Linked DNA regions of Homo sapiens: regions 2, 3 and 4 are each reported to be linked to region 1. The links are microRNA targets in miRTarBase. Many come from high-throughput screens and were not tested one by one. Region 1 holds a microRNA gene; each other region holds the end of a gene's coding sequence. Distances are between the middles of the regions.
Evidence for each region. The annotated mature microRNA hsa-miR-3135b reads GGCUGGAGCGAGUGCAGUGGUG and lies in region 1 at 1,598-1,619, opposite strand. An mRNA with a match to its seed (bases 2 to 7 or 8) in the 3' UTR can be bound and repressed. Matches are read on the target gene's strand: a 7mer-m8 pairs with bases 2 to 8, a 7mer-A1 pairs with bases 2 to 7 and ends in A, and an 8mer does both.

Region 2: the mRNA of SAMD4B is a reported target of hsa-miR-3135b. Seed matches in the 3' UTR shown: 7mer-m8 at 1,953-1,959 and 7mer-m8 at 774-780.
Region 3: miRTarBase lists PTCD3 as a target of hsa-miR-3135b. Seed matches in the 3' UTR shown: 7mer-m8 at 754-760.
Region 4: the mRNA of SLC16A10 is a reported target of hsa-miR-3135b. The part of its 3' UTR that is shown has no 7-base or 8-base seed match.

The regions. Positions count from the first base shown.
Region 1 is chr6:32,748,355-32,751,551 of GRCh38, forward strand. MIR3135B (microRNA 3135b) reads right to left here and starts at 1,625; the gene lies at 1,558-1,625.
Region 2 is chr19:39,383,087-39,386,283 of GRCh38, reverse strand. It overlaps SAMD4B (sterile alpha motif domain containing 4B), which reads right to left. Exons shown (of 14, transcript NM_001384574.2): 13 at 2,993-3,076; 14 at 584-2,785. The coding sequence ends at 2,757. It overlaps PAF1 (PAF1 component of Paf1/RNA polymerase II complex), which reads left to right. Exons shown (of 14, transcript NM_019088.4): 14 at 1-655. The coding sequence ends at 293. Among named protein-coding and RNA genes, the nearest start is that of PAF1, 6.4 kb to the left of the region's middle.
Region 3 is chr2:86,137,221-86,140,220 of GRCh38, reverse strand. PTCD3 (pentatricopeptide repeat domain 3) reads right to left here. Exons shown (of 24, transcript NM_017952.6): 24 at 1-2,752. The coding sequence ends at 2,662. Among named protein-coding and RNA genes, the nearest start is that of SNORD94, 2.9 kb to the right of the region's middle.
Region 4 is chr6:111,221,884-111,225,080 of GRCh38, forward strand. SLC16A10 (solute carrier family 16 member 10) reads left to right here. Exons shown (of 6, transcript NM_018593.5): 6 at 120-3,197. The coding sequence ends at 352. Among named protein-coding and RNA genes, the nearest start is that of SLC60A2-DT, 36 kb to the right of the region's middle.

The DNA.
Region 1 (3,197 bases):
TTGAATAATCTTGGTATATAGACAGTGCCTTACACGTAGTATATAAATATATAAGAAAACACTGCAGTTATGTTTATAATGGATTTATTAAAAAGAATGGATCATATTATATGAAAAGTACATTTGTTTTCCTTAGCCCTTTAGTGATTTAGGAGATTCAAGCGTAGACGTAAAAGTGAGTTTCTTTTCATATGTTAACTGGAGGATTTTTTTCTTTCTTGAGAGGCTGAGATTGGGTTGCTAAGAGAACTCTTAGGACAAGAAGTTGTAATATTTGACTTCGGTTTTTAACTCTCTAAGGGGTATATTCCCTCCTTATGTCCCATAAATTTTAAGTCAAGGTGAATTATATGCAACAGCAGTTTATCCATATTTACTTTGGGGAGGAGGTGGGGAGACTCCGGGAGAAAATAATTATAAATGCAGACTGGGAATTAGTAAGTGCAGGGAATCTGAACCAGTGGTGATCATGAAAACGTCCATCACAGAACACAGAGGATTTTTAGGGCAATGAAACTACTCTATTTGATACCACAATGGTGAATAAATATCATTATGCGCTTGCCCAAATCCATAGAATGTACAACACCAAGAATGAACCTTAATATAAACTATGGACTTTGGGTGATAATGATGTGTCAGTGTAAGTTCATAAGTTGTAGCAAATGTACCTCTGTCATGAAGGATGTTACTAGTGGGGGAGGCTATGCATGTGTGGGAACAGAGAGCATATGGGATACATCTATCTGTACTCTACAATTTTTCTGGGAACCTAAAACTTCTCTAAAATAAACTCTATTAAAAAAAAAGAAAAGAAAAGGTCAACAATAATGATCCCAAATATATAAAATTAAAACTGTAGTATAAAAATGGTCACATGAAAATGCATGAATGTGCTAAGAACTTTTCTGCAATAGGATTTAAAATAAATTTTATATAAATTTCAATGATTCATGAGCCAAGAACCCAGCATTCTGGAGGTGTGTGCATTTGTGTGTGTGTGTGTGTGTGTGTGTGTGTGTGTGTGTGTGTAAGGCTTACATTGAATGGCATTATAACCAGAGTCATACAGAAATACACAAATGCTCCCCTATTTAGAATCCTTCCCCAAGAAATACTGAGGAAAGCAAATATAATGGTAGTTGGATTTTACTGAAAGAATGTATTCAAAAAGTATTTATATAATGTTAAAATAGCATAGCTAAAATTAGTTTTATAAAATAGAGCAAATATATCTTTTTATCAGCTAAAAGTTCAAAGTGAAATCATCATTATTATATTATTATATTATTATTATAAACAGTTATAAATCAGGCTGCATGATTTTAAATTAAATGATTCTTAAAAATTGTTATCTGAATTATTTCAGATTACATACATAAAGTATGACTTCATTAATAGGTAATATCACATTGTTTAAATTTTACAAAATTTCCAGTCACAATGGTTCATGCCTGTAATCTCAGCACAAGGTGAGGGTCCCTTAAAGCCCAGGAGATGGAGACCAGTCTGTAGTCCCAGCTAGTAGGGAGGCTGAGGCAGGAGGATTGCTGCTTGAGCCCAGGAGTTCGAGGCTGCAGTGAGCTAGGACTGACTGCACCACTGCACTCGCTCCAGCCTGGGCAACACAGCGAGACCCCGTCTCTAAAAATAAATAAATAAATGAATAAATAAATAAAAATTACAAAACGTAAAAATCACGTAAAATATTTCAGGTTTGTACTTACCACATACAAACTAGAGATATGAAGAATTAAACATTACAAATAAAGCACTTCACACACAGTCTGGCCCATAGTAAGCAGTTTATAGAAGTTAACAAATTTGTGTTATTGTTATTTTCTGGAGTCCAAGACAAAATCCCATGATGAATGACACCACAAGGATGTAAGCAACAAAATTCAGAATATGAGAAGTTCTACTAGATTAAATAAAAAGATTTCTCCAGCAAACAATTTGCAAAAAAAGTTAAAAATAGAGAAAAGAAAAGCTATACACTTGAAAAAGACTGAAGAAATATAGTAACCAAACGCTGAGCTTTGTCTAGATTCATATTCAAACAAAACATCTGTTAAAAAATTTATATGAGGCAATCAGAAAAATTGACACTGAGTGTATTAAGGAATTATTTATCTCGTTTTAAATGTGTTAGTGGCATTGCTGTTATGTTTCTAAAAAGCCATTATATTTTAGATTTTCATAATAAAAATGTATAAATGAAATATGATACCTAAAAATATCTTCAAAATAATCCAGTATGTGCCTGTATGATAACTGGGTGGGTTTACAAAATTGCTCATGAATTGATTATTGTTAAAGCAAGGCTGTTGATACATGGAATTCTTCTCTGTACTATTGCACACAGTTGAAATTTTCTGTAATACAAAGGTTTTTTTTTTAAATGTATTCAGGAAAGTCCCATAAACATAGGCAGACAAGCATTCTGTTTGAAGTTATGTTAGTTTTTCAGTTTTTCTCATTTTTATCACATTTAGGAAACCCTGTCCAAGGCCTGCCCAAGACTGTAAGAACCTCTCAGGAATGCAACTATAAAGAATGTGTATGCAGGAACTAATAATAACAAAGGAAAGCAAAGTAATGCTTGCTTTATTATTGGCTGGACTAAGCCCCCAGACTTGTTTATATATTCACTAATTCATCAAAAATGCAAAAATGGTCATTGAGTACCAGTGCTACAATAAGTACTCATAGTTTGTTGAATGTTATTAAAATAATGTGAAAACAATTACATTCATTATCTTCATAGAACTTACACTCCAGTGGGAGGAAAATACATATATTACATAATTCCACAAACATAGTTACAAGGTCTGAAACATTTATAAAGAAAAAGAATGAGGTAAAATGAGAGAGTGTTGCACAGGGACCAGGTATGGTTTGGGGCAGTTTAGAAGTGGCTTGAAGAAATGTATCTTGAGATGAAATAAGGTGGTATACAGTAGGTAAAGGACAAGGTTGAAGAGGCCAGAGCAAATGTTTGAGAAACTCTTACAATATGAAAGAGAAGATGAGAATAAAATAACATGAAAATTATCACAGATTTAATAGAGAAAGTTCATGTAACAGCAAACAAGTTTAAAGTCATTCTAATTAGAATTCTTGATCTGTAAAAGTAATAATAGAATGCTAAAAACAATTGGAAAATTTAATAGAAAGATTGGAAAATTAAATCAAGA
Region 2 (3,197 bases), not on the chromosome of region 1:
GTGAGGACGAGAGCAGCGAGGATGAGGCCCGGGCTGCCCGTGACAAAGAGGAGATCTTTGGCAGTGATGCTGATTCTGAGGACGATGCCGACTCTGATGATGAGGACAGAGGACAGGCCCAAGGTGGCAGTGACAATGATTCAGACAGCGGCAGCAATGGGGGTGGCCAGCGGAGCCGGAGCCACAGCCGCAGCGCCAGTCCCTTCCCCAGTGGCAGCGAGCACTCGGCCCAGGAGGATGGCAGTGAAGCTGCAGCTTCTGATTCCAGTGAAGCTGATAGTGACAGTGACTGAGTCCCAGGGCATTCAGGGCTGGTTCAGACACCATTATTGTGAGCAGCAAAGCACTTTTCTAGTGGTCTGTTTGTGAGCCTTTCACTTGTTTGTTCCCCACCCCCAAACCTTTGCTGTTAATAAAGTCAACTTCTCTTTACTTCCCCTCCCAGCCCCTATGATGTCATTCAGCCCAGCACATACCTCCCGCAACCCCCAGGTGCTCAAGGATCTTGGCTTGAGGCTTAGAAACACAGGCCAGAGGCAGGGCCAATGGTTTCCCACAAAATGTAGCACAACGAAGGTCAGAATTCGTTTTTTTTGTTTGTTTTTTTTTTTTCCAAAATAAGCCCAGACCATTAAACAAGTGAAACTCCAACAAATAAGTCTTCTCCAACAGCGAGAAAAACTGTACAGTTACTCAAAGCTGATTCTGCCAGTGGGGCCGGGGACAGAAGTGGGTAGGGAGGGTGAAATCATGGAGGAGGGCCTGGGGAGGGGGCTGGAGCGGGAGAGGGTCAGGGTCCTGCCCATCAGAGTGGGGCCGCCTGCGTCCTGCACACTCTGCTGTCAGGTGGGGTGGGGGGCAGCTCTTGCCTCCCTGTGTGTGTGAGACGGTGTCCCTCACCACCTCCCAGTGCCAGGCACAGTCAGCTCACCCTGATGGAGAGTGAACAAGACAGGACAGGCTGGGGAGAGGGGAGGGTCCCATGAGAGGGACACCCTGCTGATTCCAAACGAGGTGGCCCATCCATCCCACTTCCTGCAGCTAGTGGGAGGGGGACTGGAGAAGCCCTGGGAGATTGAGGGGATGAGCAAAGGCACAGAAACATGGAGGGCCGGGGTGGGGGACTTGCATAGGTTGATGAGTGTGCAAGAGGTACATAAATAAACCTGACACCCCACCCAGCCCGGCACTGGGAGAGGAAGTGGGGACCCAGAGCCAGGTTCCCAGGGCCACCCTACCCCCTGGCTTCTTCCCCCTCCCTGGGCTCAGAGCAGAGGGAAGTCCACAGACCAGGAGGGCGGGGGCAAGAAGGTCTGGGGAATGGGGTGATAGTGCAGGGAGGGTGGTGGTTTTAAAATTTTTTTTTTTTTTGTTTTTTTTGTTTTTTTCCCAACATTTTGTATCTTTAATAACATACACAATGGTTACCAGCCATATTCATAACAAAAGTTATTCATAAAATGTATCTAAAAATAACATTTTTTTTCCTTTTCGGTGTGAAAAGCTTGAGAATGTCCCAGTTGGGAAGGTGGGTTGAGGGGGAGGAGGGCGTTGAAGAGGGAGACCCTGGCTTCCCCGCAGTCTGAACCCCCAAATCCCCTCCCTCCACCTGGGCCCCAACACAACCCCTCATTAGGAATAGGGACCAGACAGTCTGTCGGACTCTGGGGCTGGGACGAATCTCTGGGTTATGATATAGTGTTCCACTTAAGTGAGGTCATGACATAATGGGGGAAGGAAAAAGGCTGAAAGAAAAGGGAGGGGCTTAGGGAAAAACCCAAAAACCAAACAATCCCCTTTCCCTTATTCCTGACTCCCAAGTCTCACCAACCAGACCTGGGAGCGGAGAAGGGTGTGTGTTCGTGGGGAAGGGGACGTTAAGGCAACAGACTTCCTGACCTCACTGGCTACCCTGGCTGCCCACCTCCAACCTCTTCATCCGGGTAGCCAGGGCTGGAGGAAAATGGGTTAGAGCTTGAGGGTCTGGAGGAGGGGGCTCTGCCCTCTCCCCTCATAAAGTTCAGGCTCTCCCTGCCACTGTCTTGGCTGAGAGAGACCTGGGGATTCTAAAAATGAGAGGAAATGATCAGAGAAAAACCGTTAAGAACTATATAAATATGTATCTTAAATAGGCCTAAGAAATTAATCATAGAGAACCTCTGGTGAACAGGGCCAGGGGAGGTGAGAGAGAGGAAGGTGGCTCCTGTCCTTGCAGAATGTGGGGAATGGTGAAGGGGAAGCAGGGAGAGGAGAGAGAGCTTCCTCTCCTTGCTCCCCTTCCTTCTCCCCAGCTCCTCTCAATAACATTCTGGAGGGCAGGTTCTCTGCCCTGCGCGTCACCCCAAATGTCAAATGTTTCTGAGCAGGCTCCACAAGGTAGTGGTCAGTTTGTCTCTGGGGAGTCTGCTCCCTTGGGGAGAGGCAGGTGGTCAGCGGTCTGGAGGAGGCAGGGGTGGGATGGGACCAGGTGGGGATGAGGAAGGAAAGGAGAGAGGCAGGCAGTCTGGCCAGTCCCTGCCCCCTTTATCCTGGCTGCCCCCAACTCCCCGGGCCTCAGCAGAGATCCCTCGACGGGCCTGGGAGTGAGCAAGGCATGTGCCAATGTTAAACAAAAGTTAAGAGGGTAAGAGAGTAGAAAAATATTAGAATATATAGCTGAGCCAGCCCACCCTCTCGCTGTCGCGGAGAAGCCCGTTGGGGGTTGGCCCCCGCCCGCCGCCCAGGGAGCCTATGGGTGCGCTGGGCTGTGGGTCCCGTCAGATGGTGGAGGTTTTGTCTGTCCCATCTGTGGTAAGAAAGGGAGGAAGGGAGGAAGATCAGGAGCTGGAGGGAGGCCCAAGAAAAGGCACTCAGGTAGCCTGTCATCCCAGTCAGGCCCTCCCTGGAGTCTGGCCTCCCCTGGGGACCCCTCAGGATGACTCTGAGTTGCTCAGTTCAGAGGCAGAGACGCTGGGTAGGTGGGAGCTGGGTCAGGGAAAGAGGAAATGCTCACCACCCAAGGCGTGTTCTGTCATGCTCAGACACAGAGACTCCAGAGTGGGATTGATCTCCAGGTCAGGCCCAGGAACCGGGCAGTCTGGGTGGGAGAGAGGAGAATGGGGGTGGTAAGGACCAACTGGACTCAGGTGAAGACAGCTGGGATGACAAAGGATGCTGGTATGGGAAGGGAGCAAGAGAGATGGAGGGGGAGAGGGAAG
Region 3 (3,000 bases), not on the chromosome of region 1:
GGTTGCTGAAAGGGGAGTCTGCTTTACTGTGGTTACGTTAGGACTTCTCGAAGTTCTGTTTCTTAGGCGGTCATATGCCCTACTTTTAGTAGCAACATGACTAAGGTCTCAAAATCAATGAATACTTTGCAGAGTTGGTGGCATTCATTAAGCATTTACTAAGAAGCACCTACGTGCCAGATTTGAGTTTGATTCTAGACATGTAGAATCTTTTGAGTGCCATCCAACCTCTTGAATACTTTGATGGCTATAAAACAACCCTCAAATGTTGAACCAAACTAGAAGTCTAGTTTCTGACTTCTACACATTGGTAATGTAACTCTGTGGCAACACTGAGCAAGTTTATTCCACATATAGTAAGACTCCCCTTCCCCTTCCCATTCCATGAGTCCTTAATCCCATTTGCTTTTTTTTTTTCTTGGAGACAAGGGTCACTCTGTCAACCAGGCTGGAATGCAGTGGTGCAGTCATGGCTACTGCAGCCTCAGCTTCCCAGGCTCAAGCAATCCCCTCCACCTGTCTCCAGAGTAGCTGGGATTACAGGCATGCACCACTACGCCCAACTAATTATTAAAATCTTTTGTAGGGAGGGGGGTCTCACTGTTACCCAGGCTGGTCTCAAACTCCTGGGCTCAGGTAATCCACATTGGCACCCTAAGTGCTGGGATTACAGGCATGAGCCACTGCACTCAGCCCCATTTGCTCTTCCAAAATTCTGGTTTCTCCAAGACAGGGTCTTGCTCTGTTGCCCAGGCTGGAGTGCAGTGGTGCAATCACGGCTCACTGCAACCTCCCTCTCCTAGGCTCAAACAATCCTCCCAACTCACCCTCCCAATTAGCTGGGACACAGATACATACCACCAGTCTGGCTTTTTATTTTTTTGTAGATCCGGTGTCTCACTATGTTGCCCAGGCTAGTCTCGAACTCCTGGACCTAAGTGATCCTCCCACCTCTGCCTCCCAAAGTGCTGAGGTTACAGGTGTGAGTCACCACACCCGGCCGAAGAGAACATTTTACTCATAGTAGAGGCTAAAGACTATGATAAAATAAGCATTTACAGAGAATGGAGACTCATCCTGTGAGGCCTTAATTTTTCTCTATGTTCAAGGCAGTTAATTGCTCAGAGTATGGGTTTGGAGGATCTGTACCACAAACTTAAAAGTACCAAGCTAACAAATCACTCATTTTGAAAGTCTACTACAAATTCATAGGCCATCTACCCAAATGGATTTTCTCCTATCAACTCTAGCTGCAGAGCAACATGGTGATTCAGAATAGGTGCCTGGATAGGAAGAGGCATACCGTGAATCTAAGGACTGTATTGAATAGTAAGGCTAACAAGAGTCAGGCATCTGCAGGTGCTGATGAACTAGAGACAGGAAGGGACCGAGTTAACATTTCAGGTGGCCAAGGCTCTCCTTGGAAGCTGTAAACCAAGACTGAAGGCTAATTTACTCTCTCTGTCCTGCAAATCTGCTTTGATATGGAGCAATACCCATGGATGCTTAAGTAGCTAGCTACTATATCGGCTTTTTTTTTTTTTGTCCCTCAATTAAATGCCTTAAGACCTGACATTCCAAGAGAAAACAAAAACCATACTTTGGTTTCTAAGGATGTATGACTGGGTCCCGGCCTTCAGAGGATGGCAGACAGATGGGAACACAAGTATAAGTAGACTAGAGTATCCCATAATTGTCAACTCTGGCAAGGTAAAGATGAAGCTGCTTATGTGGACAACTCGTGGGGTACCTAAGTAAATCTGGGAGCCAGGTACGTGCAAAGTGGTCAGTGGTAGAAGCCCTCATGAAGGCAGGAATGCTGCAAACCTCCACTTACTGCCTTCCAGGACCACTTAAGTCATAGTGGTAAGAGCTGCTAGAAGTAGTCGTTACCAACTTGATTACCAGCAATACACAATGATGTCAAGAAGACATTCCACATCCTTCTGTCATCACTAGCTCTCATTTCAACCACTAAAATAGGTAACAGCTATAGACAAAAAAAAAGGGAGACATGAAACATTCATGGCTGTTCAAGTTAGAAAACTATGGCAGCGGCTATATTAACAAAAATACAAACGTGTACACTAATTACAACATTTATCTACAGTCATTTTACCAGTTGTGCAGCCTAAACTGCCATTATCTTGTTTAGTCATTCCTAAGATGCGTTATTTCTGACATCGAAATATCCTGAAATTGGGAAACTATTGACCCAACCCCAACTGTGTTAGAACTGCATGAACACCTAAGATGAAGGACCAGCATCACAGCAGCACATCAGGCCAACAAAGGCAGAAGTCCAGCAGCAGGAGAGGGCAATCGCACGAGGACAGCATCGTGAGGTCAGCTCACCGACACTCTAGGTGTGCAGGCTTATCCTGATGACAAGAGCCATGGACCTCACCATGTGTCTGAAAACCGCAATGTTGCTACTTAAATGCTAAGCCTTTAATGGTGCATTAATAGATGGTTAAGTAGCATATTAGCAGCTTAAATCTACATAAGTCAGCTGTGTACTGACTGTACCTCACAGTAACAAATTCACCAAATCTGTATCTTTTCTTCTTTGTAACAATGTTAAATATTGGTATATCTCAGTTCTCAGGTGTGATTCCAGCAGCTATGGTGAGACCCATTGCTGCTCCTGAATCTCCACTTTCATTTGCCTTCACTGGTGTCACTGTCGCTGTCACTGCTGCTGTCAGTATCACTGTCACTGGTCAATGCAGTTAGATTACTTAGGGCTTCCCTGTTAAGAAAAGAAAATGGAGGATTACACTGCAATTCAACTGGGTGCTGGGGTTCTCGGTGTCTCTGACACTCACCTATAGCCTGTCAGTTTTGAAATCAGAAAAAGGGACCCTGCAGTTGCATTAAACTATATTAGAAACAAAAAGCTTCTAACAGTCAAATCTATAGGCTTTCCTGACTTGCATGACAAATGAAATAGTCATTAAATTACTACATTCTGACTTTTTGAAAGGAAATAGAAGGGAT
Region 4 (3,197 bases), 78 Mb from region 1:
TTTCCTAAAAAAAAAAAAAAGTCTGATGTCTGAGATGTCTGAATCAGTCCTGTGGCTGATCTAGACCCCCTACAGAGCCACACTTGTTCTCCCTTGGTGACAGCTTTTTCCCTTCTCAGGGTTACTTCGTGACAAACTGGGCTCCTATGATGTGGCATTCTACCTCGCTGGAGTCCCTCCCCTTATTGGAGGTGCTGTGCTTTGTTTTATCCCGTGGATCCATAGTAAGAAGCAAAGAGAGATCAGTAAAACCACTGGAAAAGAAAAGATGGAGAAAATGTTGGAAAACCAGAACTCTCTGCTGTCAAGTTCATCTGGAATGTTCAAGAAAGAATCTGACTCTATTATTTAATATCTTACATACCTCCACCAGACTGGACTTGCTTTTTGAATTTTAAGCAAGTTTCCTTTCCTTTTATACAAATTGCAAATTTCATATTTTTTTAATCACATCCTAGGAATAGCACAATAATTGGGAAATAGAACCCTTATCACTAGAAGAACCATTTTCTGCCACTAAATATCTCTGATGTTTCCATGAGTCTGAGGGCAGAGACTCTGGTATATGAAAACGTCTGAAAGTCACATATTGTGAAAATTTGAAGCTATCTCAGTAAAAAGCAGCTTTGGAAACTGTGAATGATCTTTAGCTTGTACAAATGTTTAAAAATACCTCAGGCTATACTGAAAGGGTTGCAGTTTGGTTAGGAGTGGAAATATTTTGTTTGTTAATGATGTCTTCAGTTCTGGTACCTCTGTTTTACTTTCTTATGCTCTTTGGAAACTTTTTGCAAAATTTAAGCCTGGGTTCTAGATAATACCAGATCTACCTAAACCTCAAGTCTATGTTAAAGTTGCTTTCCTGCTGTTAAATAAGCTATGATATTAAGATATTCTGACTTGCTCCAGTGTCAAGGGACCTTCTGGGAGCAGGTGCTAACATAGTGTTCAGAATCAATATGTGAGATGAAAAGGATCCCCTCCAGGAGGATCCTGAGCTGTTCAGAAATCATTTAAGTTTACAGCGTTGTTCCCTTTGCGTTTGCAGTGCGTTTTACTCAAGTAGCCAGAAACACCCCACGTTTCTGAATTTGTTTAAACTGTAACAATAAAGTAAAATAGAATGCATGAAAGATATTCTGGCGATTGTAACTTAGAATTTTTCTGACTTCTGGATTTGTTGGCACTAGAACCTGATATTTAAAGTCTTACTGAGCAGCTATCAAGTGGCAGTTACAGGCACAAATTGGTGGAGGCTGGAGGATGGGGAGGGGAGCAAAACCCTTTATATTTGTGAAGAAAATATCTGTAGCTGATAGAAATAATTGCTTAAATTGGTTTATGAAATTAATGAGTCTGAAAAGGTTAAAAGCACTTATAAAAAGAACCAAGTCCTACATTTCCAGAACTTTCTGGCAAAAATTTGCACTCATATTATTTATCCTATGAACATTCCCATTGTTTTTTTTTGCTATTTATATACAGATTATCATAAGAAAGCTCTCAGTTTGAGGACCCAAAATAAAACCAAAGTCATGCCATGACCCATACTCATTTACAAAAACAAGAACACTTTCCTCTATCCCTAAAATTATGCTTTAGTACTTGAGGCCTTTAAAAGTTAGTGCTTTTGATTGTGAAGACATTCAGCAACTTACTTTGTCATACATGCAGTTGCACCTTACCACTTCTAATAGTGTCATATTTCATATTCAGGGGACTTAGATAATTTGCCTGTGGATGGTTCTTTTGCAGGAAAAAAAATCTACATTTTGACCATACTACCCTTTCATGTCCTTATTATAAGCTTTTAGAAAATGATTTCATTCAGTCATGTCCAGTTATATAAAACGTTACTTTCTCATTTTTGAGAAGTTCAACAAAACATACTACTAAGACCAATCATCAAACCCACTATTATAAATGTTAATTTTGGCTGGGTAAGGTGGCTTGCGCCTATAATCCCAGCACTTTGGGAGGCTGAGGAGGGAAGATTGCTTGAGCCCAGGAGTTTGAGACCAGCCTGGGCAACATAGCAAGATCCTGTCTCTACTAAAAATAAAAAAAAAAATTAGGCCAAGCATAGTGGCTCATGCCTGTAATCCTAGCACTTTGGTAGTCCAAGGCAGGGGGATCACTTGAGCCCAGAAGTTCAAGACCAGCTTGGGTAACATAATGAGACCCTGTGTCTACAAAAAATTTAAAAATTAGCCAGGCATGATGGTGCCCACCTGTAGCCCCAGCTACTCAGAGGCTGAGGTAGTGGAAGGATTGCTTGAGCCTTGAGATGGAGGCTGCAGTGAGCTATGCCACTGTACTCTAGCCTGTTCAACTGAGCAGAACCCTGTCTGTAAAAGAAAATCAAAAACAAAAAATAAATGTTAAATTTTGTTTTAAGTTTTAGCACAGACTCCCCTCAAAACACCTTCTCCCCAATTTTACAGAAAGTAATTTAAAAATGAAAACTTTACTCTGTAAAGACCTCTACAGTGTTTTTCTTTTCAAAATTTGGCTGATTTTAGGAAAAAAGTGATCATCTGAAACTAAAAGAAATTGCTTGGTTAGTTTCCATATTAAAACAGCAGTGACAAGTATATATAACTTAGATCTCAGCATATGTGTTTGTATATTAAACTTCACATATGTAGTTTTCAGTTTAATGGAATGAATCAAACTGGATCTATAACACTGAAAAAGTTCTATTGTAATAGACTCATACGGAGAATACTCTGCTATAATAATATAAAATTAAGAAGAAAAAGTATAAACGTAAGATGCTAAATTCCATAAATGCATATTTAGTACTATGTTTTTTGTGGGAAAAGTTCTAAAAGTTTAAAATGCACAAAGAAAATGAAAAATACTAATATAAAAATTTGTGCTTTAATCTAGTCAAACTAAATCCTTTCTAATTTCTGAATGAAGTGTTACTGCTGCAATAAAGTGACCTGATAAGCCTAAATTTTTTGTGTTCAATCCAGACACTTTTCTGAGAGTCTGAAAAGAATACAGAGTCAGAACTCTGTTTTTATCTCCTCATCCTGTTTTTGATAAGACTCAGAAAATTCTCAAATTCGAAAGGTTCTGGCATTTGAGGCCAAAAAAAGCATGAAAGGGAGTAACATTCCTTTTTATAGATACTCTAGATTGGATACTATTGTAACAGATGGCCAAGAAACTTCCAGAAACATTTTGGT